Linked DNA regions of Homo sapiens. The protein of the gene in region 4 purifies or fractionates together with the protein of the main gene of each other region. This does not show direct contact. Each region holds a gene or a part of one and is shown on either strand. Other genes may lie near its edges. The genes, in order: BPIFB1, HP, TMEM131L, SFXN4, SERPINA3, TCN1 and PIGR.

Region 1 (3,500 bases), on a different chromosome or scaffold from region 4:
TGACAAGGGGGTGGAAAAAGTGTACTGACCCCAGGCTAGGAGGGTTCCATCCTCAGCACAGCCAACCTTCTCACTTGCAGATGAGGAGGTGAGGCCCTGAGAGGGGAAGGGACTTGCCCAGGGTCACCTGTAGGCTGGGGTTGGAGTGCAGGCCCCACCTCCCAGCCAGGGCTCTCAGTGGCTGTGCCCTCCCTGGGGCAGGATGTTTAGGGCCACACCCACTCACCTTGGTCAGTGAGGACTCAGCTGCCTCGAATCCCAAGGCCTTCACCAATGACACTGGGACCCCAGATCTTAATTTGCCTGAAATAACAAATGTGGTCAGAAACTGATGGGCCTGGGGTGAGACTGGGCAGCCAGGGGCAGGCTCAGGGTTCCTGAAGGGGAGCCCCGGCCTGGCAGGCCTGATCAGACAGCCCCCTCTGCCTCTGCTCGCCTGTTCTCTGGCCCCAGCATTGACCCAGCCTCGTCTACCCTCCCTTTGCCTCTGGCACTGGCTTCTGGCCCCTCACAAAATGCAGTCCTCACATTCTCTTACGCTCTTGCTCAAGAACCATCAGGGGCTCCCATTATCCCCAGCAGAGGTTTCTATACTTTGAGATTTTTCCAGTCTAATAAAATAAAGAAATTAAAAAGGTGGAACTGTATAGGTTACAAACCCTTCCCACCCCTCATTCAACCTGGGGCTGAATTAGAGTGTTGGGCACTGACTGTGCCAGGCACCTCCTGATTTGTGCCTCTGAAGAAGGTACTTCTACGTCCCCATTTTACAGATGGAGAAACTGAGGCTCAGAAGGATTGTGCAGCTTGACCAAGGCCAGGCACTAGCAAGAGGGGGAACAGGGTCTGCTGAGGCGCCTCCAGTTGTCTCTTACACCTCTGTCATTGCTCTCATTGTCTGCTTATGCCTCTGTCTCCTTCCAGCCCTGCAAGTCTGGCCCACTGCTTGGTTCATCTTTACGAGCCCAGCCTCTGGCACTAGCAAAGGAATTGGGCTGAGAAGGTTCTTGGGAGGAGGCAGATTTTGAAGTAGGCTCTGAGGGATGGCTGGGAGATGAATGAAAGGGGCCCCATTCATGGAGATGAGGGCAGGGGAAGTAAAGCCAAGCCCTGGGGAGAGAGGGGGCACAGATGGCAGAGGTATGCACCATTCTGGTTCGGCAGCAGGATGGAGTGGATGATCTCAGTGATGATGTTTTTCAGAACATCAGGCTGTGAGAGAGAGAAGGGGCACTGTCACCCTGGTTGAGCATCTGAAGTTCCCCCCCATCATTCTTCGTGGGTGTGGCTCCTCCCCATGGGTGAGGTGGCTGGTGGAGATGTAGGAATTCCAGGTCCCCTGCTGATCAGAGCTGTGGGGGCTCCCAGGGACCAGATGGGCTGGGTTGGGGCATGAACTCAGCCGCCCCTGGGGCCTGGTAGATGGGGGGATTGGGGTGCATTGGAGGATGCCCCATCCTCAGGGGCCCCACCACTCTGTTGCAGCTGAATTTGCCCTGAGGGAATTTTGCCCTGCATTGCCTGAACTTCTGACTTCTGGAGGGAAGCCAGAAGTCCTGATTTGCATGTGGAACTCTCCGTGTTTTAAAATATTAGTCACCGGGCATGGTGGCTCATGCCTGTAATCCCAGCACTTTGGGAGGCCAAGGCGGGCAGATCATGAGGTCAGGAGATCGAGACCATCTTGGCTAACATGGTGAAACCCTGTCTCTACTAAAAGTACAAAAAATTAGCCGGGCGTGGTGGTGGGCGCCTGTAGTCCCAGCTACTCAGGAGGCTGAGGCAGGAGAATTGCTTGAACCCGGGAGATGGAGGTTGCAGTGAGCCAAGATCACACCACTGCTCTCCAGCCTGGGCGACAGAGCGAGACTCCATCTCAAAAAAAAAAAAAAAAAAAGTCAAAAATAGTGAAAAACAAATCATAAAAACCAGAGAAAACACGCCAGACTGAGGTATTGGGGTTCGGTCTGAATCCCAGCAGGAAAGGGCTGTCTAGGGGCACTGAGGCGCGTCTACGTGTGCAGAATGAGATTGTGAGTCAAGGGCACTTGTGTTCTAATTCAGGATCAAAACTTCACTGAAAGAAAGTGTGTATCTGTGAGTGTATTTGTGTGTGCGTGTGTGTGTTCTCAGCTGTGTCTGACACGTGGTGGCTTCTCTGTAAACACTCGAGGGAAGTTGGACTTTGGTGGAGACCGGCCAGCCCCCCATGGTGCTTCTGTGGGGACCTTGTTTGAAGCAAATCCTGGGCAATATCTGTTTTGAGAGTGGACCATTCCAGGCCACCCCCTGTGCCCTCAGGCACCACCTGTTAACACTTACTTGGAACCAGCCAATCCCAGAGTTCATCAGCTGGATCCGATCAGAGCTGCAATGGAAGATGCCTGTGAGAGCGGCCCCTGAAGTCCCACTCATTCACCATCCACTCATTCAACAGCGATTTATTGAGCACCTATTATGTGCCAGGCACAGTGCGGGCTCCAGTGAACCACATGAAGCCCTTGCGTCGTGGAGCTTGCATTCTAATGGCAGGGGTGGGGTGGGGGGCATAGAGGGGGCACAGAAAACAAATAGCAGTCCAGTGAGCAGAAAAATCAACCTCAGGAGTCAGGGCTGTGGTGGACAAGGAGGCCCAAGCTCCTTCAAAGGGCGCCCCAATTCCTGGCTCGACAGTTTGTTGCTATGTAGGATTGTGGGCACAGGGCAGCCAGATAGTCTGATTTGATATGTGCACAACTCATTTATATTAAACAGCCCAGCCCTATGTGGGCTGATCAAAAGAGCCCTGGGCCTGACTTGTCCCCAGAGGCTCCAGCTGGCAGCCCCTGCACTCACTCTGGGGCCACAGGAAAGTGGCGGGGAGGGAGAACAGGCAGGGTGCAGGAGGCAGCTGGAGCCCTGCACTTCTGTGCCGGGTGACTGTCACTGCCACGGCCTGGGAGGTGTCCAGAGTGGGCTGGCCGCGGCTAGGGTTTGCCTGTGCCGTGGCTGCTGCAAGGCCTACTTCATTTTCCTCCCCATTCCCTCACATGCAGTCCTTGTCAGCAGGAGCATCCGGAAGGACCTCCCTGCCTACCCTGGAGCCGCCTTCACCTGACAGCCACAAAGTCGGTGTTTAAAGAAACCCATGGTTACCAGGCGGGACTCATTTCCATCAGCAGAATCTTCATGATGATTTGTGTGTTTACCTGATGTTATTCAAGTTGAGTATAAGTTGGTCACCTTTGGTGTAAAACTGAGCTTCCGAGCTGGCTTCCTGCAACAAGAGAAGCCCAGGCCCCATTGTTCTCAAGAGGATCCGAGTGTGGAATTAGGGGTTATGCAGGGAGGCTCTGGGGTCTGAATCTCAGTTCCTGGCTCTGGGACCTTGGCAAAGGGTTTGACCTCTCTGGGCCTCACCTGCCTCATCTGTTAAATGAGATAGTACTTGCCTCCACTCCCCATTTAACAGATGACAGTCTAGGCTTGCTGTGGGGAATGATAATGATGACGATGACGAC
Region 2 (4,102 bases), on a different chromosome or scaffold from region 4:
CTGTCACCCAGGCTGGAGTGCAGTGGTGCGATCTAGGCTCACTGCAACCTCTGCCTCCCAGGTTCAAGCAATTCTCCTGCCTCAGCCTCCGAGTAGCTGGGATTAAAGCATGCGCCACCATGCCTGGCTAATTTTTGTATTTTTAGTAGAGATGGAATTTCACCACATTGGTCAGGCTGGTCTCAAACTCCTGACCTCATGATCCGCCCACCTCAGCCTCCCGAAGTGCTGGGATTACAGGCGTGAGCCACCACGCCTGGCCTGTCTTCATTTTATTAATACTGTCTTTTGATACACAAATGTTCATTCCGATGAAGCCCAATTTATCTAATTTTTCTTTGATTGCTGGTGATTTTGGTGTCATTATCTAAGAATCCATTGCCAAGTTTTACTTGGTTTTGATCTCTAGAAGACTGCCATCATACTGAAGGTAATCTTCTGAAACTTGCGGTTTTCTTTCAAAAATTATGTTTATAAGATGATCCATGTTCTTGCAGAGTTTATTCATTTTATGCTGTATAATATTCCATTATATCCACATACAATGCAGTATTGACCCTTCCTCCTGTTGATGGGCATTTGTCTTGTTTCTAGTTACTTTGCTATTATATCAGTGTCACCATGATTATCCAAAAGTAATTCTTTTGTACACTCTAATTTAAGAACAACTAACCCTTTTTAATGAATAAATCAACCTTGTATTGAGTTGCTACTAAGTTTCAGTTGACTAGTACCTGGGATACACACAGGTGCAGACATTTGACTGAGACATATTGATTTTTCTCATCTGCCTATTTAGGCTAATCACCAGACTATAAAACCATGAGAACCACTGCCATTGAGTATAGTCTGTGTCAGTCTACACTATAGCTTTAACTAGTTGTGTGATTTCTTGCAAAGAGCAATCAGAGAAGACACAATAAACACATTTACTGATTTCAGGCTGGAGAGCTTTTAAGCAATAGGGAGATGGCCACACACAAGGTGGAGAAAATTACTGTGAAAAGGAAGTACTTTCTTTAGAGCCCCACCTAAGCTAGGCTGCAGAAATGTCTACAATGGGTTTGAAAAAACTCAAAATGAGCCTTTCTGCAGTGTGAAAATCCTCCAAGATAAAGAGACAGATTGATGGTTCCTGCCGCCGCCCTGTCCTGCCCAGTTGCTGATTTCAGGAAATACTTTGGCAGGTTTGTGGGTCATAGAGTTGCCAGGTTTCTTGGGATTTGTAATAGAACATCACAAGAAAATCAAGTGTGAAGCAAGAGCTCAACTCTTAACAGGGGTATTGTTTGTGGTTTTGTTACTGGAAAAGATAGTGACCTTACCAGGGCCAAAGTTTGTAGACACAGGAATTACGAAATGGAGAAGGGGGAGAAGTGAGCTAGTGGCAGCATAAAAAGACCAGCAGATGCCCCACAGCACTGCTCTTCCAGAGGCAAGACCAACCAAGATGAGGTGGGTCCACAGCTTTCCCTCCTGCCTTTCCTCTGGTTCTTTATTTCAGTCTTTTTTGCATACATCGGTAGAGATGCAGAAATAGAACAAAGAAACGGGCAAATGGGCTAAATTATAGTGAACCAAAGGGCTTAGTGTGTTAAATCTTCTCCTTTTCTGCATCCATAGAAGACAGTGCTGCTGTCTTTCCCAGGAGATAAGATTTACTCTCAGGAGTGTCTTTTTCCTTCAGGTTACATTTTTGACTTTATAGGGTATGTCATCAGCTCCCGTGGTAGGCTTCCTGGCATCCTGAGTATATTTATTAGCAGATATTTTCCTCTTTAAAAATGTACAATAAGGAAGACTAATAGTAACACATTTGAATGACACAATTAATTGACTAGTACCTGGGATACACACTAATACCTGGGATACATCTAATTAAGGCACTTAGATCTTATAAAAATAAACACTTTTTGAAATGTTGAAATAATAAGACTAGAAACTTTTTTTTTTTTTGAGATGGAGTCTCGCTTTGTCACCAGGCTGCAGTGCAGTGGCATGATCTCGGCTCACTGCAACCTCCACCTCCCAGGTTCAAGTGATTCTCCTGCCTCAGCCTCCCAGGTAGCTGGGACTACAGGCGTGCGCCACTATGCCCACCTAATTTTTGTATTTTTAGTAGAGACGGGCTTTCACCATGTTGGCCAGGATGACCTCGATCTCTTGACCTCGTGATCTGCCTGCCTTGGCCTCCCAAAGTGCTGGGATTACAGGCATGAGCCACCGTGTCTGGCCTAGAAACTATTTTAATAGAAGCAAGTAGTGCCCGAATGGTTGGCATTTGTTAGTGAGATGGTGAACTGGCAGACGGCACCTGTGGGTCAATGCCCATGGCCACCGTCCTGCTTTTGGACACCAGTTCTCTTCCAGGTAACCTTCTGGCATTTTGGGGTTTCAGATACCATTTCCTAAAGGTGAATTATTATAAAATACTAGAAATACCCACGTGTTTAAAATTATATATTTAAGGAACCTTTTATTACGGAAAATATCAAGAAGTAGAGGAATAGCACAGTAAGCCCAAAGTTCCCATCTCTGAGTTATCTACATTTTATTACCACTATCTTTGCGGTGTCTGAGGGAGGTTTCTCTTTCCTGGAGGGCTCCTGTATTATTGCCAATGTACTTTCCTGAATGCAGCCAGAAACTGAGCCCACCCCTCCACCTATGTGCCTTTCTATCCCTCTCTGAAGCTTCTGCAGAATTCCCAGCAGGACAGGGCTTGCTGGAAGCTTGGTATGCTCAGAAGCTGCTAAAGTGTGTATGGGCAGGTGTGGGGGCAATTTCTTGGTCCTAGCACTTCCATATATCGACTTTCTTTTCTGGCTGCTAAGTGGGAGGAGTGTGTGTGTATGCATGTGTGTGTGTGTGTGTGTACATGCATGTGTGTGTGGATGCATGCATGTGCTGTGAAGCAGGGAGACTAGCTTTCCACTCCTCCTTGTCTTCTCTCTGCAGTGCCCTGGGAGCTGTCATTGCCCTCCTGCTCTGGGGACAGCTTTTTGCAGTGGACTCAGGCAATGATGTCACGGATATCGCAGGTCAGTCTTTGGTTGGGTAGGAGTGTGCATCCCACTCTGACCCTCTCGGGTCTGCACTCTCTCTGAGAACACCCAATTCCCCCTTCTTATCTCGACCTCTGGGCTTTCAGGACCATAAAGAACATTGGGGTTCCTGCCAGAAATGAGGGGAGCTTGCCTTTCCATTGGCTTCTATTCGGGGTGGAAGGAGATTGATGTGCAGAGCAGCTCCCGCTCATCTGACTTTTCACGGTTCACTGGGAACAATTTCCAAATAGCAAACTCTCTGGCTTCTCTCTCTTTGCAGATGACGGCTGCCCGAAGCCCCCCGAGATTGCACATGGCTATGTGGAGCACTCGGTTCGCTACCAGTGTAAGAACTACTACAAACTGCGCACAGAAGGAGATGGTAAGATGTGGACAACTGTCTCCATGCCCTACATACAACCCCCTTCTCTGACATTTCCATGATGGGTGGTGCTGAGGTGATTCGCCAGAAAGTTCGTTGCTCTCCTTGGAGCCAGGAGATTTAGATTCTAATAAGCGTTTTGTCGCCAGTAGCCATGGCCCTTTGGGCAGACTAACTTTTGTCAGCCTCAAGTTTTCTGTTTTGTTAAGGGGAGGCGATGCCATGCAGCCTACCTCATGTAAATCTCAGAGTCACATTTACATCTCCAGCAGATGTGGGAAAAGAAGGAATGCTGATGATGATGTCACCCTCACCTAGTGAGTCTTGCTGTCCTGGCACTGCTCTAAGGGCTTTATACTTATTTGCTCACTTAGTCCTCACAGTATCCCTCTGAACAGAGTTTATTGTTTTCACTTTGCTGATAAGGAAACTGAGGCACAGACAGGTTGAGTATCTTGCCCAAATTCAGGCAGCCTGTAAGAGGCAGAGTCAGGATTTGAACCCTGAGCCCTCCCTGTACTGCTTGGCTGTGACCGCCATGACCACAGTGTGTTCTGCTGGGCTTAACTGGTGTCCAGGCACTTGGCTTCCAGCACAGCACTCTTTCCCTTCCTCCTTCTCATATTCTCTCTCCTTTCTCCCTTCCTGTCTGCCTCCTTTCTTCTTCTTCTTT
Region 3 (3,500 bases), on a different chromosome or scaffold from region 4:
GTAATACCCTGGGACCACAGTCAAGTGCTGAAATATAGGAACTGAGAGAAGAGGCACCCTGCTTTGGAGAGGTCAGCTAAGGCTTAGGGACAAGGGAGGCCTTAGAGATCTGCAGCAGCAAGTGTGTGCCTGGGGCCTAGCCCAGAGCCTCGCCTGGTAGACAGTTAAGTTCAGCATTTTCCCTCGGACATTTTAAATTGGAGCCCAGGTGCTTGCCGCAATGTGGTTGTAGGGGTAGGGCTGGGTGTGTCAGGGCCTGTGTGGGACAGTGCTGTATGCTGTTGAAGAGCTTGGTGTGCATCTGACCAGTTGGAGGGAGCCATAGTAGGTTCTTGAGCAGGGACTGAAGTGATGACATTGAGTGCTGGGTCCTTACTGTGTGATAAGGGTGATAAGGAGTGAATGATATGAGGAGACTGGTCTTTGCTGCACAGAGTGCGATGGTGCACCGGATGGTTGCAGGCAGCAGTCTGCAGGCAGAGAAGAAAGCTGCGTTTGTCTTCTAATACAGCCGGGGCTACTGATGGTGTGGGCTGCTGTGTTGGAAGAAAGGACAGGTAGGAACTGGGTTTCCCGTGAGTGGGTAGGTCTTTCTGGTAGGAGGTGAAGGGAGGAGAGCAGTGCAAGATGACTATAAGATTTGCCCAGGGGTGGCCGGGCACAGTGGCTCACGCCTGTAATCCCAGCACTTTGGGAGGCCGAGGCGGGTGGATCACAAGGTCAGGAGTTTGAGAACAGCCTGGCCAACACAGTGAAACCCTGTTTCTACTAAAAATACAAAAATTAGCCAGGTGTGGTGGCATGTGCCTATAGTCCCAGCTACTTGGGAGGCTGAGGCAGGAGAATTGCTTGAACCCAGGAGGCGGAGGTTGCAGTGAGCCGAGACCCTGCCATTGTACTCCAGCCTGGGTGACAGAGCGAGACTCTGTCTCAAAAACAAACGAACAAACAGAAACAACGGTTAACACATGTTCTTTTTCAATAGGGTGATTCTGAAGAGGGTCTGGAGGAGCCTTCTCAAGAACAGAGGTAAGGAAAAAATGGGGGTGGAAACCTGCATGCTGAATGTCCCTGCCCACTTTGGGTGCTCTCTGAAGTCTCAGTATATGTCCATGTTTATGTATTTAGTAGTATCTGTAATACACCTTTCTCTTTGGCATTTGTCGTATCTATACCTTCTAATACATTAATACGATTTTGTTTTAAAATAAGGTTGTTTAGAAAGCTGTTAGAAATAGCCCCTCCTTCGCCACTCACCAATTTCACTTTTTCCATGATGTGCTTGTGCCCTCCCTCTTGTTTATAAACATCTATTGAGTGCCAGGCACCGTGCTGGGTGCTGAACATGAAACACAAACAAGACCTCTGTTTCGTGTAGTGGGCAAGTAAGACTTTACTGTAAGTAAAATAATTATGCTTATGACAAGAGCTATCAAGAATTAGTTTCCTGTAGTAGAGAATAATGAGGTGGATGGGCTCCTTTTGGGAGGTGACATTCCAGCTGAAGCCTGGAGGAAACAGGAGCAGCCACACAGCAGCGGGAACAGTGCTTTGGTCAGAGGGAATGGAGGTGCAAAGGCCCTAAGGCTGGAAGCCCTGCCGGCAATCCAGGAACTTGGAGAAGGCCAGTGTGGTTTGTAGGATGGTGAGATAAGGTATGTAGTCCTTTAGAAGTCGCAGTAAGGAATTTGAGTTTTGTTTTTAAGTGTGGTGTGAATTGTTAAAGAATTTTAACCAGGGGACTGGAATACAGTGGTATGATCCTGGTTCACTGCAACCTCCGCCTCCTGGGTTCAAGCAATTCTCCTGCCTCAGCCTCTCAAGTAGCTGGGATTACAGGCGTGTGTCAACATGCCTGGCTAATTTTTGTATTTTTAGTAGAGACAGGGTTTCTCCATGCTAGCCAGGCTGGTCTCAAACTCCTGACCTCAAGTGATCCGCCCGACTTCGCCTCCCATAGTGCTGGGATTACAGACATGAGCCACCGCACTCGGTCCTGTGAATTCCATTTTTAAGAGAATACCATGGGGCAGTCTTGGTCACTTGTCAAACTGGGTCCCTTAGAGGTACACGAAGACACTCTAAGTGGTGTATAAGTGGGAGGATAACTTGCAAGGACTACGCTTCCAGACCCCCAGGGTGTAGGTATCTCCTAAAGCTGATCTGAGTTGTAAGTTACCATTTTCCACCTCTGCTTTCACAATCTCTTTTCTCCACGTTACAAAAGAAAGCTGTATCTTCCACCCAGCCCCAATCCTGCTGTTGGCTTCATCTTGGGCAAAGAGGCAATTTGAAATATTGGTGTTTGTTAGGAAAAAGTGATCCACTCTGATTGGATGACAAATTCTTTAGTAACTTTGGTGGTTTTCAGATCGTTCCTTTTAGTAAAATTGAAGGAGGACCCAATGAATTTGACAACTGATAGATCATTCAAGTTACTTTTAATGATGGCTCACTGTGTGATTTTTAGATGAAACACTGAGGTAGTTTAGAGAATATACGGATAGTGCTGTAATAAAGCTGTTTCAGTACTTACAAGCTTTTTCAGTACTTACATTTAAAAAAGTTAAAAAGGAAAGGATTAAGTTGATAAAAAACCTGTCTCATTCTAGTAGTGGGTAATGTTCACATCAACCAGTTGGGGGGAAAATAGCTCTGTTCATCTCATTAAAGGATGCATTTTCAATAAGATTTTACTTTCTGTGTTTAATTACCTATCAAAATTTGTAAAACTTGTTGGTTTGATCAATTGTATGCAGTCGGCCCTCTGTATCTGTGACTTCTGCATTCGTGGATTCAACAAACTGTGGATCGAAAATACAGAAAAAAAAAGTATCTGTACTGAATATGTACAGACTTTTTCTTGTCATTATTCCTTAATACAGTATAAAAACTATTTACATAGCATTCACATTGTATTAGGTATTATTAGTAACCTAGAGATGATTTAAAGTATACAGGAGGATGTGCATAGGTTATATGCAAATACTATATACCATTTTATATCAGGGACTTGAGCATCTTCAGAATTTGATATTCTTGAGACGTCCTGGAACCAATCTCTCAGGGATTCGACTGTACTAATACAAATTGTATTGATAACTTTTTTTGTTTTTGGAAACAGTGTCTCACTCTGTTGCCCAGGCTGGAGTGCAGTGGTGTGATCTCGGCCTACTGCAACCTCCCCCTCCTGGGTTCAAGTGATTCTCCTGCCTCAGCTTCCTGAGTAGCTGGGATGGCAGGTGCACACAATCACGCCCGGCTAATTTTTGTATTTTTAGTAGAGATGAGGTTTCACCATGTTGGCCAGGCTGGTCTTGAACTCCTAACCTCAGGTTATCCGCCGGCCTCAGCCTCTCAGAGTGCTGGTATTACAGGCATGAGCCACCACGCCTGGCCTGAATTGATAACTTAATTCAGAAGGAAAAAAATTAATATTTAGACCTATGGTCATAGGAAAAATGTTTTAAAAACCTGAAATTTCAATTTATATTTATAGT
Region 4 (3,500 bases):
GGTTGCAGCGAGCTGAGATTGCGCCAGTGCACTCCAGCCTGGGCAACAGAGCCAGACTCTGTCTCGAAAAACAAAAAAAACCCAAAAAACCAAAAAGCACCTCCCAAGGGCCAAGGTGAGAAAAGCCTCACAGGGACAATGCCAGGTCCCAGGTGAGGGGCTGTGTCAGAGGAGGACTTGGTGGCCAGGGGTTTGTGCAGGGAGCTCATCCTAACTCACTGGCCGCTTCTACCGTGCTCTGCGCATACTTGGTGTTCAGAAAAGGGATGACCTTGCCAAGCTGTGGGCCTTCCAGAGGCCCGGATGCCTGACTGGGAGGGTGTGGGGAGGGGGAGGGAGTGGGGACAAGGACGTATGAACAGCAGCCATGGGTTATCAGTGGGGATCCACAACCATCTATCAGGCAGTCATGTGACAGGGGTCCGGAGCTGGAGGGACACAGCTGAGGTTAGGAGGAGAGTGGCCATCTTCCCAAGCCCCTAGTCTCCTAACGGCAAATGTCTGCTTGCTCACCGTGGGTGCCATGAAAGGCAGGAACGCTGGCAGGAAGAGAAGAGAGGAGGTGTCAGTGATCACAGTTGCCCAGGCAGAGGGGGCCAGAAGGGGACTACCCACCTGAACACCTCTTCCCCAGCTTCCAGAAGGCACAGACCTCAAAGGACTTTTTCCACTCATTCTTTGTTTTTCTAATAAAGTGGGGGGTCAAGGTCTCAGCACTTTGGTAGGCTGAGGCTGGAGGATGGGTTGAGGCCAGGAGTTCGAGACCAGCCTCTATTTTGTAGAGGTAGCGAGACCCCCACCTCCATAAAAAATTTAAAGCCAGGTGTGGCGGCATGACCCTGTAGTCCCAGCTACTCAGGAGGCTGAGGTAGAAGGATCAGCTGAGCCTGGGAGTTGGAGGCTGCTTTGAGCTATTATGGTGCTACTGTACTCCAGCCTGGGTAACAGAGCGAGACCCTGTCTCTAAAAATGACAATAATAATAAAGTATGTACATAAAATTACTATAACATGGCCAGGCACAGTGGCTCACGCCTGTAATTCCAGCACTTTGGGAGGCCAAGTGGGCGGATCAGAAGGTCAGGAGTTCGAGACCAGCCTGGCCAACATAGTGAAACCCTGTCTCTACTAAAAATACACAAAGGAAAAAAATTAGCTGGGCATGGTGGCAGGCACCTGTAATCCCAGCTACTCAGGAGGCTGAGGCAGGAGAAATCACTTGAACCTGGGAGGCGGAGGTTGTAGTGAGCCGAGATTGTGCCACTGAACTCCAGCCTAGGTGACAGAGCAAGACACTGTTTCAAAAAAAAAAAAAAAGAAAGAAATCCTGCTGGGGGAGAAATAATTAAAGCAAGGCAGGCAGAGTTTTCTTTTCTTTTTTTTTTTTTTTTTGGACACGGAGTTTCACTCTTGTTGCCCAGGCTGGAGCGCAATGGCATGATCTCAGCTCACTGCAACCTCCGGCTCCCGGGTTCAAGTTCAAGCAATTCTCCTGCCTCAGCCTCCTGAGTAACTGGGACTACAGGCACGTGCCACCACAATGCCCAACTAATTTTTTACATTTTTAGTAGAGACGGGGTTTCACCATGTTGGCCAGGCTGGTCTCGAACTCCTGACCCCAGGTGATCCGGCAGGCAGAGTTTTCTAAGTGTTAGAAACTACATCTTCCCAACCCACTTCTGAAAATTAGAACCAACTCACCTGCAGGTCGAAAAAGCTTGGGGATCAGGTTGCTGCTGTCGGGATGCACTGTTGCCTTCAAAAGGAGAGATGCAAGGTTAGCTGGATGTCTGGTTTTGTTATTATAGGACACTAAAAATTAGGAAGGGGCTGAAACTTACAAGACTCCGCTTCCAAGCTTCTTGTATCTTAAAGGAGAAAAAAGAATAGCTTTGTTTCATTTTAAATTTTTTTTAAGAGACAAGGTCTTGCTCTGTCACCCAGGGCTGGGGTATAGTGGCACAATCATCACTCACTGCAGAACAGCCTCGAACTACTGGGTTCAAACGATCCTCCCACCTCACCCTCCTGAATAGCTGAAACTACAGGCTCACGCCACCATTCCCAACTAGTTGTTTAATTTTTAGTAGAGATGGGGTCTTGCTATACGGCCCAGGCTGGTCTTGCAGTCTTGGCATCAAGTCATCCTCCCAAACCATTGGAATTACAGGGTTAAGCCATCACACCCAGCCTTAAAAAAACAACAACAACAACAAAAAAAAACAAAAAAAAAAAAAAAGCTTTTAAAGGTGGCTCAACAGCAAAGAATTTCTTTGCCTGTCTCATTTCTGGGACCACATTTGTTCTACCTTTCAGAGAGTGAAGGCCAGAGCTGTTATTTACCACATTGACAGAACAAATCAAAATAAATGGATCATATGAATAAACAAATGAACTAATGACAAGCAAAGAGACGAGCCACACAGAGAAATGGACCAGAACATTAAAAAGTCCTGTCTCTACCCTTGGAGAATACCAACACCTAACTTATCCCTCAGATGAGTCCCCGAATCCGGCTTGCCTCTGGCTCAGAGCAGAGCAGGCTGTGTGCTGATGACACACCATGCCATCAGTCAAGTTACTTGCAACAGAGCCAAGCTGTCAGCCCAGGGTCCCCAGCACATTCTTAGAAAAAGTTAAATATGTGAGCTCTCCATAGGCTGTCTTGAGGAGCTGGTGTTTGTGAGCTCCAGAAAGCCCCACATACTGCAAGGTAGATAAGGAACAGTCCGTTTGAGCCTATCGGCAGGAACGCTGCCTGCAGTGGAGAATGAATTCTGACGTCAGAGCCCTGTCTGAATTCTGGGGTTTGCCACTGGGCTCCAGGAATCAGCTGCAGGGAATCCCCACAAATATCCACTGTGTAGGAGGAAACTTGCTGTCTGGTTTATGGGACAGAATTCTAACTACATTTAAAAAACTAACCCAGTTTTGCAAAGCTGGTCCTCTGGGCAGTATATAACAATGACAGCATTAATAGCCAATAGAACAGTGGCTCCCAAGGGAAGGAAAAAAGAAAGAAAAGAGACGGAGACAGAGATTAATGGCCAAATTCCACCTGACTTCAGACCATGCAGGCAGAACCATCTGAGGGCAACCAGCCAGACCTGAGCACGTGAAACATACCCTTTGGTCCGCCGAGGCAGGGCTGGAAACATCTTCATTTGTGCACAATAGTTGCCTCGAGTTTTCTATACTTTCCTAAAATCAGATATCAAGTAATCAAGTAATGATCTCAACATTGTTCAGGTTTATCCCCAGAGGTAGGAATCACCAGCTCACTCACCAGCATGCACTGGACTTCGACTGCATGCCTGATTTCAAGCCACATGGTGCCCTAGGCTCTCTATCCATTAGGATAGCCCTGAGTGCCATTCAGATTTATGCCTTCCTCTTCCTAGATGCTCCAGCAGCTGCCCCCAATGGTGCTGTCACCTCCCCCACTCTCTGATGTCAACTGTCGCACTGAATGGTTACCACCATCCCCTGGCTATACATGTC
Region 5 (3,500 bases), on a different chromosome or scaffold from region 4:
AACCACTCCAGGGCGCGTAGGAGCTAGAGCTCCCTCCTTGCAGGGGTGCTGCTAGACTAGGCCAGGAAGTCCCTCTGTCTGGATGCACCTGGGGCTCCTGCCCTGCACATGTGGGAGGAGCACATTCCAGCCAGGGGCCTTGGTGTCTGGAGGTGGCCAGGTGGGGCTGGGGCCATCTTCACAGGGCAAGATAATCCCCAAGGAGCCTGGCCACTTCCAAGATTCTATGATTCTACTCTGCTATCATCTTTAATTATTTTAAAAAATATGTCACTGACACATAACAAATGAGGGCAGAAATGGCATTGTTCCCATCTGGGGAAGAGCCTCAAGGGTGGGCAGTATACAAAACATGACCCTTTGCCAGATTCTAACTGGTCCAGTGCCCAATCCCATTGATAGAAACTCAACCAATGCAAACCTCAGCCTGCAAGCTCCGAAGGGGCAGAGTGCAAGCCGGTAGCTTTTGCCTCCTGGAGCCCACAGTCCAGATGGGGACAAAAAAAGAGATAGGGACACAAAGAGTGATCACTGAGCCAGAGGGTGGAAAGGTGCTTAGGAGACATGAGCTGCTTGGAGGCAGAGTCCTGCTTGGAAGCTGTTGGTTGATTCCTGGGCAAGCCACTTCCCCTCCTGGGCCTGGGTTTTCATCTGTAAATGAAGGCGTGGATCCAGATCTCCCTCTAAGACTACTCCACGCCTCACGTGCCATTTGTTCTCTGAGTTTCCCATGTTCTCGCCTCCTACTACCTAGCCCTATGCTAGGACTCTCCCCTCCAGGACACAGTAGCCAGCCTAGCTTTCCCCTCCCCACCTGCCTCTAACAATGGGAAACAGGCAGGTGGTAAACAGGTGGGCAGTGGAGGTGGCCCCATGTCTCCAGCCTCCCCTGGAAGCTCCCACCCCCCTCATTGTTCAGTGCTCTGGTCCTCCTGGAGTGGAGACCTGCAGGGCCCCTCCCCTTCCTCTGTTGACCTCTCCTCACTCTCCAGGTGCCAGTTTTGCTCCCTGCCTCAGCCTGGTTTACATACAGTGTATGTGACGGGGCTTGGTCACTGCTGGGGCAGCCCTGTGGAAGGTGGAGGGGACCGAGCATGCATGAGCTTCAGGCTGAGACAGTCCCAGCTCAGAACCCTGGAGTGCTTGTTCCCTCCCTTTCTGCTCTTCCTCTTCCATTGCACCCACTGGACCCAAGAGCATGCAAGGATTGACTCACCCAGTGATGCTAGAACTATGTATTCAGCTGAAAGTAAGGGGGTGGGGGCATCCAACCAGGGGCAGAAGATGGGAATTCAAGAAAGGAAGGTTTCCCCTAGAAAACGGTTTTCGTCTTTTCTCTTAAATCCAGATAGAATAAGAAGCGAAGGCCGTTACAGCAGAGAGAAAGTTGAGTCAAGCAGAGATCAGATACTAAAGACACTAGACTAACCAGACATTCGGGCCCTCAGTTGAACAGCTGAGGATGTCAGAAGATGTTAAGGAGGCAAAATTGGAAAACTTGGTGGCTGGCAGACAGAAATGGGGGGAGATGGGAGCAGATGTGAGAAGATTTAAAGGCTTGTAGAGCTTGGGTGGTGATTTCATCCACCAAACCTATCTCTCTCCCCATTCTGGCATACAAGGCAGCAGTCAGGGTCCCCAGAGGCAGCCCATCTTTCTGGCAGGGACCCATGCTGGAGATCTGGCCAGCTGAAAGGCCCCAAAGGAGCTCGGTGCCCTGGGTAATATGGGAAGGTGCTCCATGGCACTGCCCTCACATGGAGGCCACAGAAGCCCCTGAATGGCTGCTGCAATTGGTAACGGGGACACCTGTTCAACTGAAATATCTCCTACCCTGAGATGGGTCCTTTCTCCAAGGGATCTTTACAATTACATTTGTCCCCAGTCATTCCATGTTGGGAGGCTGCAGGGACCAGAGAAGCTGAGATGGTCTTTGGGGAGGGGAAAGGAAAGATGGACAGTTATTTTGGTCCTAGAAAGCCCAAAGGTGGGGAAGTGTCAAGAAGGAAGATGAGGGCACAAGAGAATGTAGGGCCACCCAGAAGCTGGCTCTCATTGCAATTACAGAAAGAAAAACCAAAATAAAGAAAGAAAGGAAAGAAGCTCCCATTTATTGAGCAGCTACTCTCACCAGCCATTCACATGCAATACCTCGTTTAATTCTCGCAGCGGCTCTGAAAGGTGGATGGTGGTATTGCCATTTGTTAGGTAGGAGACATGCCGTCCAGAAAAGCAAATAATTAAACATTCAAAGTTGACCTGGGCCCATTTGAAAATTCCTTTTGCTCCCTCATTTTAACCCCTAAAGTAAAGCCGTTTGTGACTTTATGAGCTTTTACCAAGCATCTCCTAAAACCAAGAATGGAGGTGAAAGATTGTGGAGCCCACAACCTAGAGAAAGGATTGACAATTTTTTTTCCATAAAGGGCCTAGTAGTATGTATTTTAGGCTGTGTGGTCCACATGAGGGCAGATTCTTCTTTTTGACTTCCTCCTCTGCATCTTCTTCATCTTCTCTTTCCTCTTCATTTTTTTTACAACCTTTGAAAAATATAAGCACCATTCTTAGCTTTAGGTACACACAAAAATAAGCTATGGCTGTATTGGCTTACAGGCTATAGTTTCCTGACCCCTGTTCTAGGGGAGGAAAATAATTGTACCCAACTAAATGCGTGCGAATCATGGGCCTATGTCATGATTCCCAAAGAATGAGTTTCATGGAATTTTCAACATTTTAAATATTTTACTCCATTCTTCCCTTGCTTGCATAGTTTCTGATGAGAAGTCTGCTGTCATTTTCATCCTTATTCCTTTTTAGATAAGGTGGAGTTTTCCTCCCTCTGCCTCTACCTCTACCTCTTTCAAGATTTTCTCTTTCTCTTTACTATGGTAAATAGGCCTTTAGTGAGAGGAGTTATGTCAGCCTGGCTAGGAGTCAGGCTGCATTTCAGGTTTGTGATAGCTAGAGGTACCAGAGGCAGTTTCATGGAATTTTACCTTTGCAACACTGAGAGCCTAGGCAGCCTCAGAGTCAGAACACCCACAGTTGAATCCTCAGCCTGACAGACACTGAATCCAGGGCAAATCTTAGCTGAATATTCATGGTCTGTAGAGGTGGACATGAGCTAGATATGAGCTAAGGACCATAGCCAGCTCATGGCTTTTGTGATGTCCAACACCGCTATCCTCTAAGATGTCACAAGTGTCCCTAGGCTTTTATTCCCATGGTCTCTCCTGGCTCTGAGTTCTATCTTCCATTAAGGTTCTTCCTGTTCCTCCCCTCATTCACACTGATTGGCATCTCTTCTGTCTGCCCTCACCAACTCACATACAGAACCCAGTCTCTTTCCTCTTATTTCCACCCAAAGCCCTCCCACAAGCCACTGTTATATGTTCACATCCCTGTAATACCAGTGAGTAATAATTGCTAATGAGACATTTTTCCTTTTATGGAACAAAGGCTGTCCCATTTCTCCTCAGGCACCAGCCTCCCACATGTTG
Region 6 (4,300 bases), on a different chromosome or scaffold from region 4:
TCCTCCTTGGTTAGGAAACTCTCATGGAATCTATCTTAGGAGAAAAATCATAGTTTGGAAACCACTATGCCAAAGATCCCCTCATGTGCTGGGTTCTCCAATACTGCCTGCTTCAATTTCAGACTTACAACTTTTACTTCCGTTTTTAAATTTTTTTATTTCAATTTTTGTAGGTACATAGTAGGTGTATATATTTATGGGGCTCATGAAATGTTTTGATACAGGCATGCAATGCGTAATAATCACATCATAGAGAAGGGGGTATTCATCCTGTCAAGCATTTATCCTTTACGTTACAAACAATCCAGTTATACTATTAGTTATTTAAAATGTACAATTAAATTATTATTGACTATAGTCACCCTGTTATGCTACCAATAGTAGGTCTTATTCATTCTTTCCAATATTTTGTACCCATTAACCCTCCGCATCTCCTTCCCACCACTAGCCTTCCCAGCCCCCAGTAACCATCTTTTCATTCTCTATCTCTATGAATTCAATTGTTTTGATTTTTAGATCCCACAAATAAGTGAGAACATGCAATGTATGTCTTTCTGTGCCTGGCTTATTTCACTTAACATAATTATCTCCAGTTCCATCCATTTTGTCACAACTGACAGGATTTCATTCTTTTATATGGCTGAATAGTACTCCATTGTGTATATGTACATTTGCTGTGTTCATTTATCTGTTGATAGACACTTAGCTTGCTTCCAAATCTTGGTTATTGTAAACAGTGCTGCAACAAACATGGGAGTGCAGATATCTCTTCAATATACTGGTCTTCTTTCTTTTGGGTATATAGCCAGCAGTGGGATTGCTGGATCATATGGTAGCTCTATGTTTAGTTTTTTGAGGAAGCTCCAAACTGTTCTCCATAGTGATTGTACTAATTTACATTCCCACCAACAGTGTACAAGGCTTCCCTTTTCTCTACATCCGTGCCAGCATTTGTTATTGCCTGTGTTTTGAATAAAGCCATTTTTAGCTGAGATGAGAGGATATCTCATTGTAGCTTTGATTTCCATTTATCTGATGATCAATGATGTTAAGCACCTTTTCAAGCACTTTTTCATATGCCTGCTTCCCATTTGGATGTCTTCTTTTACTTCCATTTTTATATGTTGTATGTGTTTGCATGATCAAATCTACTTTATCAGGAAACATAAAACATAAAGTGAAACGGAAAAAAAAGGAAAGATTATAGGAAACAGTCATTTGCCTAATATATCTTCACTGCACGGAAGGCAAATAATAGATATGAAACCCGAAGGTTTAGGACAGGAGACAAAGGAAAGTTATTGCCTTATTCTCCCTAACCACATCCTTCAAGTCTTCTTCCTTATTTATTACATCACATGGACAAATACACTTGACCACACCTCCTGACATTGCTCAATATTTGCTTGAGTGAAAAGAGGCTGAGGCAACCTGAAGGAGGAGCTCTCATTACCTTCTGCCCATCACTTAATAAATAGCCAGCCAATTCATCAACATTCTGGTACACTGTTGGAGAGATGAGACAGTCACACCAGCTGCCCCTAGTGGGGCTCTTACTGTTTTCTTTTATTCCAAGCCAACTATGCGAGATTTGTGGTGAGTAAACTTTGAGCTAAAATTACTCTAGAGTGATAGTCTACTGAAAACTGTTGACAAGAGACTCTATGTAGAGTTACCTGAGAAAAGATCCCATTCCAGTTTCGTATGTGGTTGGACTCCATGAATGATGAAAAGGGTGGCAGGAGATGGTGAGGAAAGTCTCACAATGCATGTTGTTGTAAGAGGAATTATAGATTGTGTATTCACTTGCCTAACTGCTCTTTCTATGCTCAGATCCTCTCTAGCACAGCATCCCTACCAAGTAACTCCCTATTCATGTGACTTTTCAATGACAGAAAATTTATGCTCCCAGAAACTTTTCTAGATCATGGAAAGTTATCTTTTGGTCTTGATATGCAATCTTTTTTCCCTGAAATTCAATGCATGATTTTTGGGTTAACCCCTTGTAACTACATAGAAAAAAATAATAATCTCTTTCAAATAGTGATGACTGCTGTCTTGTCATGAGTGAGTTTAGATGTTCCAAGTTGCATGTCCACCTTCCTTCAACTCTTTCCCAGGACACATGGGATAAAGTTCCATCATCTCTTGCATGGGTGTTGACCCCAGAGATTGTGTGGTTCTGTAAAAGAACTTTAAAGTAAGAGAAGGGAAAACTAAATTCAGGTTTAGTTTGATCCCTTAGTTATTGAATGACCCAACATTTCTGAATTTCTTTAGCTTCATTCATAAATAAAGGATAATGAGGGGAGACTATTGAAGCAAATTATCTCATGAAGTCTGGTGCAGTTCTCAAGTGCATGAATTCTCTTTTGTGAGACTTTACTCTGAAATTGAGCTTCAAACCAGTCCAAAGATTACTAGGTGGTACTATCTGTGCTCTCTAACCAGTAAGAAGAGAACACCACAGAAGACAGGCTTGTATACATACAGGCTAAAGCATAGACTCTTCTGACTCTGATTTTTCTTCTTGGCTTGACATTTCCCCTGTTGGATCCTAAGAATAGGGAATGGCTATGTAGGTTTTAGCTTTCAATTCATTTTAAATAATAATGATAATAATTAAATTTATCTTTGAGACTCAAGGAAGCTGATTTGAGTTGTTGATCAGGAACTAAAAAGTCTGTTTCAGGGCCAGAAAATCTGCTGAGCTGGATGGTTCCACAAAATCTCAGAGAACTGACTCACAATTGTTCCATTGTGTCTGCAACAAACCATGACCTTTCTACAATCACTCTATTCAGATCTTCTTGACTCATTCTTTTAAAGTAAAGAAAACTGGGCAAGAGAAATTACATTTCCTTGATTCTCAAGTATAGTGATAAAAACTCCAGTTGAGCTGGAAATAATAGTATGTGCAGCATTTTACAGTTTATTCGGTGGTTTCTTGTCCAATATCTGTAAGGTAAGTGTTAACAGCCACAATTTTTAAATGAGAAAACTAAGAGTAAAACAAGTTACATAAGTTATTATCCACAGTCATAAGTTAAGGAGCACAAAATGTGGCCAAAATCTGAATCCAAACCTCATGTTCTTCTCACTCTCCCACTAATCCATTAGATAATCTGGAGATATGTAGGATTTGGGGCTACTCCTCAAGATTATGGAAAAATACATTGACAAAGTGTCCTGTGTTTAAATAAATAGTAAATCTTTTTATTCTCCTCTATTTCCTTGGGAGCTATGGATTTTCCTACTTCCACAGTATAATGTGACTTCCCTCCATCTCTGGAATTGGGGCATATTGTAGGCTAAAACTGGAGAGTTTTTTACAGGCTGCATAATGCTAAATAATGATCTCGATGCCCAGCCAGCTGGGTAATCAGACAATGAAGTTTTGGGGTCAATCACCAGTATAACACAGAATTATTACCTGCATTTTCTCAACATTAACCCAGTTGATTTAGAAGATGGAGAAGGAAAGAACTGAATCCAGGAAGTAGAAAGTCCTGCTTACTGAGAGTCAGAAGACATGTAGTCTAGTTTCAGCTCAGCCTCCAATTATGGAAGTTTCTTTAAGGACAATCTATCTAAGCTTCATATACAAAATTAGGGAATGATGCTAGATTTCCCAGGCAGGAGTCTGCCAGTACACAATGATAAGTCTGCACCAGTTGTTAAAATATTAAAACATTTTCATGTTGGTTGTTAAAGGAGTAATGTCTGGCATGGGGGTGGGTTCAAGACCCACCTTTGTATTATTCCACCAACACAGTCTGCAGCCACTGGATTGGTCTAGGTCTGTGCCATATCTGTTACTAAATATTTTTATATAACCCCTGCTGCAAGTCTTACTATTTTCTGAGTATGTGTTTCTTATTTCCTTCCTTCTCTGCCACAGAGGTAAGTGAAGAAAACTACATCCGCCTAAAACCTCTGTTGAATACAATGATCCAGTCAAACTATAACAGGGGAACCAGCGCTGTCAATGTTGTGTTGTCCCTCAAACTTGTTGGAATCCAGATCCAAACCCTGATGCAAAAGATGATCCAACAAATCAAATACAATGTGAAAAGCAGATGTAAGTTGCTGTATATTCTGGAAGATTTAGAAAAAAATCTACCTATTTAAAGATTATCTGCAACTAATCCTAAAAAATTATGCATCCAAAGTATCCCTGCTACATCCCTTCTAATGGTACCAAACTTGAGGTAACAGAAACATGCCCAAAATACAATCCCATGCCATTCACCCTAGAGCTAGGTCTTGCTTCTTTTGGTCTTAAAAACCACTTTTCTTC
Region 7 (3,500 bases), on a different chromosome or scaffold from region 4:
GGGTGGATTGCTTGAGGTCAGTAGCTCAAGACCAGCCTGGCCAACATGGAGAAACCTTGTCTCTACTAAATAGAAACCAAAATTAGCTAGCATGCACCTGTAGTCCCAACTACTTGGGAGGCTGAGGCATGAGAATCGCTTGAACCTGGGAAGCGGAGGTTGCAGTGAGCCGAGATCGTGCCACTGCACACCAGCCTGGGCGACAGAGAGAGACTTTGTCTCAAAACAATAAAAATATATAAAATAAAAAACAAGGGTTATCATAAATTTGTCATTCCCTTGTCCTTGAAATGGTTATCATTAATGAATAACAATTCCAATTTAATCATGATTAAAACAGTCACTTTATTTAATCTCAGCAATTTTCCAGCTGTGATATATGATAAATTATCAACACAGGGCCTACGTGTCAGGTAGAAAACCACATCTACTCATAGTGGGTTATCTGGAACAGGCTTTACCTCCCAAGGGCCTCAGAAAGCCTCTCTCTTCTGTTCCCACAGCCATCTCCACGAAGAGTCCCATATTTGGTCCCGAGGAGGTGAATAGTGTGGAAGGTAACTCAGTGTCCATCACGTGCTACTACCCACCCACCTCTGTCAACCGGCACACCCGGAAGTACTGGTGCCGGCAGGGAGCTAGAGGTGGCTGCATAACCCTCATCTCCTCGGAGGGCTACGTCTCCAGCAAATATGCAGGCAGGGCTAACCTCACCAACTTCCCGGAGAACGGCACATTTGTGGTGAACATTGCCCAGCTGAGCCAGGATGACTCCGGGCGCTACAAGTGTGGCCTGGGCATCAATAGCCGAGGCCTGTCCTTTGATGTCAGCCTGGAGGTCAGCCAGGGTAAGGATCCAAGCTCCTTGGGCTTCTGGGGGAAAGTTAGAGGGAATTCTCTAAGGTGCATGGAGGGCTTGAGGAGGAACTTCCTGACAAGGATGTGTAGCCGGGTTGGGGGTCAGAAGGCACCCCTTTCCCCAGGCAAAGACTTCTTTAACAGGAGAAGGAGACAGATAGGGCCTACTTGGGGGTGATGAGTGAACCCTTCTAGGACTTGGTGGCCTATAACATTTTAGGCTTTCTGGAGACCCCAGCTTAGAAGGGTATCAGAAGGACAAGTTTTCTGGTGTTTGCTACAGGTAGAAAGGGAAATCTGACATCAGGCTAAGGAGATAGAAAAGGTAGGGAGAGATTTACAGGGATCCTTAAATTCCTATCATTAATGCACCTTTCCATCAAGGTTTGGGCCGCCAAAAGGCTTCTTGTAAAATGCATATTTTTTTTTTAACCTGGGAACCCTTAGTCTTTTGGTATTATCAGGGTAAATTAGATTATTAGATCTTGACCAAAGACCAAGATCCTGAAAGGATGGGTTGCTAACAAGCCTATTCTAGTTGGAGAAAGAGAAAAAAAGAAAAGCTCTTTCTGACAAGGGTTTAACAATGAGGCTGTTTTAGATAGTCAAGGGCAACTCAAAAGAGAGGTCTACGGAGAAAAGAAATTCAGGGGGACTCCCAAAGACATGTCTTGCTCCTTTGGAATATGCATACTATTGTCTGTGGACTAAATGAGGAGGTCATTTAGGTGGGGATCAAGATTCAAAACCACAGAATCTTTAGAGGTGAAGAGGGCTTAGAGTTCACCCTAACCGGACACTTAGAAGAACATGCTGATGACGGGTATGCAGCCTCTGATTAAGCACTTTAGCAGAAACTCACTGCTCCCTGAGACAGCCCATTTCACATTTAGACTCTTGTAATTTTTAGAAACTTCTATTGTATGCGTTGAAATCCATCACCCTGCATTTACATTCATTCTGTTCATTTCAGCACACATTAATTTGGCCACCTACTACCCAGAGGCATTGTGCTTGTCACAGCAGAGGGGTCAAACATGAGAAAAACATGTTCCAGCCTTCAAGGAACTTCCAGTCCATGGAGAACATAATTACCCATACACCAGATTGGATGTAATAAGTGATGCAGATGTATCAAGAAAGCACAGGGCAGGGAGAGATTAGTGTTAGCTTGGGAAAGGTTTCATGGAGAAGACCGCTGTCAAGCTGGGCCTTCCGACAGCATTCCTCTGGGAAGGAGGGCATTCCAGGTTATAAGTCCACCCACACCCTAACTAGGAATAGCAAATAGTCCTATGTTGCAAGAAAGTAGAATCGTAACTTGCCTGCCCCCTACCTTGCACCCCTCATCCTGCAGGTCCTGGGCTCCTAAATGACACTAAAGTCTACACAGTGGACCTGGGCAGAACGGTGACCATCAACTGCCCTTTCAAGACTGAGAATGCTCAAAAGAGGAAGTCCTTGTACAAGCAGATAGGCCTGTACCCTGTGCTGGTCATCGACTCCAGTGGTTATGTAAATCCCAACTATACAGGAAGAATACGCCTTGATATTCAGGGTACTGGCCAGTTACTGTTCAGCGTTGTCATCAACCAACTCAGGCTCAGCGATGCTGGGCAGTATCTCTGCCAGGCTGGGGATGATTCCAATAGTAATAAGAAGAATGCTGACCTCCAAGTGCTAAAGCCCGAGCCCGAGCTGGTTTATGAAGACCTGAGGGGCTCAGTGACCTTCCACTGTGCCCTGGGCCCTGAGGTGGCAAACGTGGCCAAATTTCTGTGCCGACAGAGCAGTGGGGAAAACTGTGACGTGGTCGTCAACACCCTGGGGAAGAGGGCCCCAGCCTTTGAGGGCAGGATCCTGCTCAACCCCCAGGACAAGGATGGCTCATTCAGTGTGGTGATCACAGGCCTGAGGAAGGAGGATGCAGGGCGCTACCTGTGTGGAGCCCATTCGGATGGTCAGCTGCAGGAAGGCTCGCCTATCCAGGCCTGGCAACTCTTCGTCAATGAGGGTAAGACCCTAGAGAGGGAGGGGGAGTAGGTGGGGCAGTCTCGCAGGTGAGAGCCAAGCTCAGCTCCCTCTGAGTGTATTCATCAATAGTCATCAATCAGCCAACAGCATCCACTCAATGACCAGCCCCGAACTGGAGGCTGCGTGGGCTGCTGCACAGGACAGCAAGAAAAAGCAACCTCTGCCTGATGGCAGCTCCTAATTACTCTTCTGTTATCAAAGTCATTTTGATGGCTGTCCCTGCTTAACAAGCAAGAGGTGAGTAAAGCTCTTGATTGAGGCAGGACTTATAGACTGTGTTTCAGGGCTGTGGCAGGCTCTGCAGGGGTCCTCTGTCCCCTCCCCTGGCCCCTGAACAAGATGGGTGCCTCATCCCTCACATTCAGATGGAAAAAGGATTGGCTTATCTTGGTCTCAATGCGTTCCCAGGAGTGCCCCAGCCTCTAAATGTTTCACTGTCACATTTCGTAGGGTTATTTGTGAATTTCAGCACCATCTGGCCCACTCAGCCCTACTCCAGTGAGCCATCAGCATGGTGAAAGAATTAAATCCCAGCTCCTTCTCATCCCAGAGCACCCTGCATAGAGTTGCCCTCGTGAGAAGCAGCAAACCAGTACTTGCAGTTCCAA

What was found.
Region 1: the proteins of SFXN4 (region 4) and BPIFB1 purify together in Homo sapiens (affinity purification with mass spectrometry; one large-scale study listed by BioGRID and IntAct). This does not show direct contact.
Region 2: the proteins of SFXN4 (region 4) and HP purify together in Homo sapiens (affinity purification with mass spectrometry; one large-scale study listed by BioGRID and IntAct). This does not show direct contact.
Region 3: the proteins of SFXN4 (region 4) and TMEM131L purify together in Homo sapiens (affinity purification with mass spectrometry; one large-scale study listed by BioGRID and IntAct). This does not show direct contact.
Region 5: the proteins of SFXN4 (region 4) and SERPINA3 purify together in Homo sapiens (affinity purification with mass spectrometry; one large-scale study listed by BioGRID and IntAct). This does not show direct contact.
Region 6: the proteins of SFXN4 (region 4) and TCN1 purify together in Homo sapiens (affinity purification with mass spectrometry; one large-scale study listed by BioGRID and IntAct). This does not show direct contact.
Region 7: the proteins of SFXN4 (region 4) and PIGR purify together in Homo sapiens (affinity purification with mass spectrometry; one large-scale study listed by BioGRID and IntAct). This does not show direct contact.

What each region holds. Positions count from the first base shown.
Region 1 is NC_000020.11:33,303,714-33,307,213, reverse strand, and holds part of BPIFB1 (BPI fold-containing family B member 1 precursor), read right to left. Parts: intron 3,257-3,500; coding exon 3,189-3,256; intron 2,369-3,188; coding exon 2,323-2,368; intron 1,213-2,322; coding exon 1,149-1,212; intron 304-1,148; coding exon 227-303; intron 1-226. UniProt on the Homo sapiens protein: May play a role in innate immunity in mouth, nose and lungs. Binds bacterial lipopolysaccharide (LPS) and modulates the cellular responses to LPS.
Region 2 is NC_000016.10:72,053,203-72,057,304, forward strand, and holds the start of HP (haptoglobin isoform 1 preproprotein), read left to right. Parts: upstream 1-1,302; 5' UTR 1,303-1,450; coding exon 1,451-1,455; intron 1,456-2,958; coding exon 2,959-3,041; intron 3,042-3,327; coding exon 3,328-3,429; intron 3,430-4,102. UniProt on the Homo sapiens protein: As a result of hemolysis, hemoglobin is found to accumulate in the kidney and is secreted in the urine. Haptoglobin captures, and combines with free plasma hemoglobin to allow hepatic recycling of heme iron and to prevent kidney damage.
Region 3 is NC_000004.12:153,472,860-153,476,359, forward strand, and holds part of TMEM131L (transmembrane protein 131-like isoform 1 precursor), read left to right. Parts: intron 1-985; coding exon 986-1,029; intron 1,030-3,500.
Region 4 is NC_000010.11:119,159,215-119,162,714, forward strand, and holds part of SFXN4 (sideroflexin-4), read right to left. Parts: intron 3,201-3,500; coding exon 3,126-3,200; intron 1,868-3,125; coding exon 1,841-1,867; exon of another isoform or gene 1,756-1,840; coding exon 1,701-1,755; intron 540-1,700; coding exon 514-539; intron 1-513. UniProt on the Homo sapiens protein: Mitochondrial amino-acid transporter. Does not act as a serine transporter: not able to mediate transport of serine into mitochondria.
Region 5 is NC_000014.9:94,615,391-94,618,890, forward strand, and holds part of SERPINA3 (alpha-1-antichymotrypsin precursor), read left to right. Parts: intron 1-3,500. UniProt on the Homo sapiens protein: Although its physiological function is unclear, it can inhibit neutrophil cathepsin G and mast cell chymase, both of which can convert angiotensin-1 to the active angiotensin-2.
Region 6 is NC_000011.10:59,863,688-59,867,987, reverse strand, and holds the start of TCN1 (transcobalamin-1 precursor), read left to right. Parts: upstream 1-1,500; 5' UTR 1,501-1,517; coding exon 1,518-1,596; intron 1,597-3,901; coding exon 3,902-4,081; intron 4,082-4,300. UniProt on the Homo sapiens protein: Binds vitamin B12 with femtomolar affinity and protects it from the acidic environment of the stomach.
Region 7 is NC_000001.11:206,936,467-206,939,966, reverse strand, and holds part of PIGR (polymeric immunoglobulin receptor precursor), read left to right. Parts: intron 1-503; coding exon 504-848; intron 849-2,215; coding exon 2,216-2,872; intron 2,873-3,500.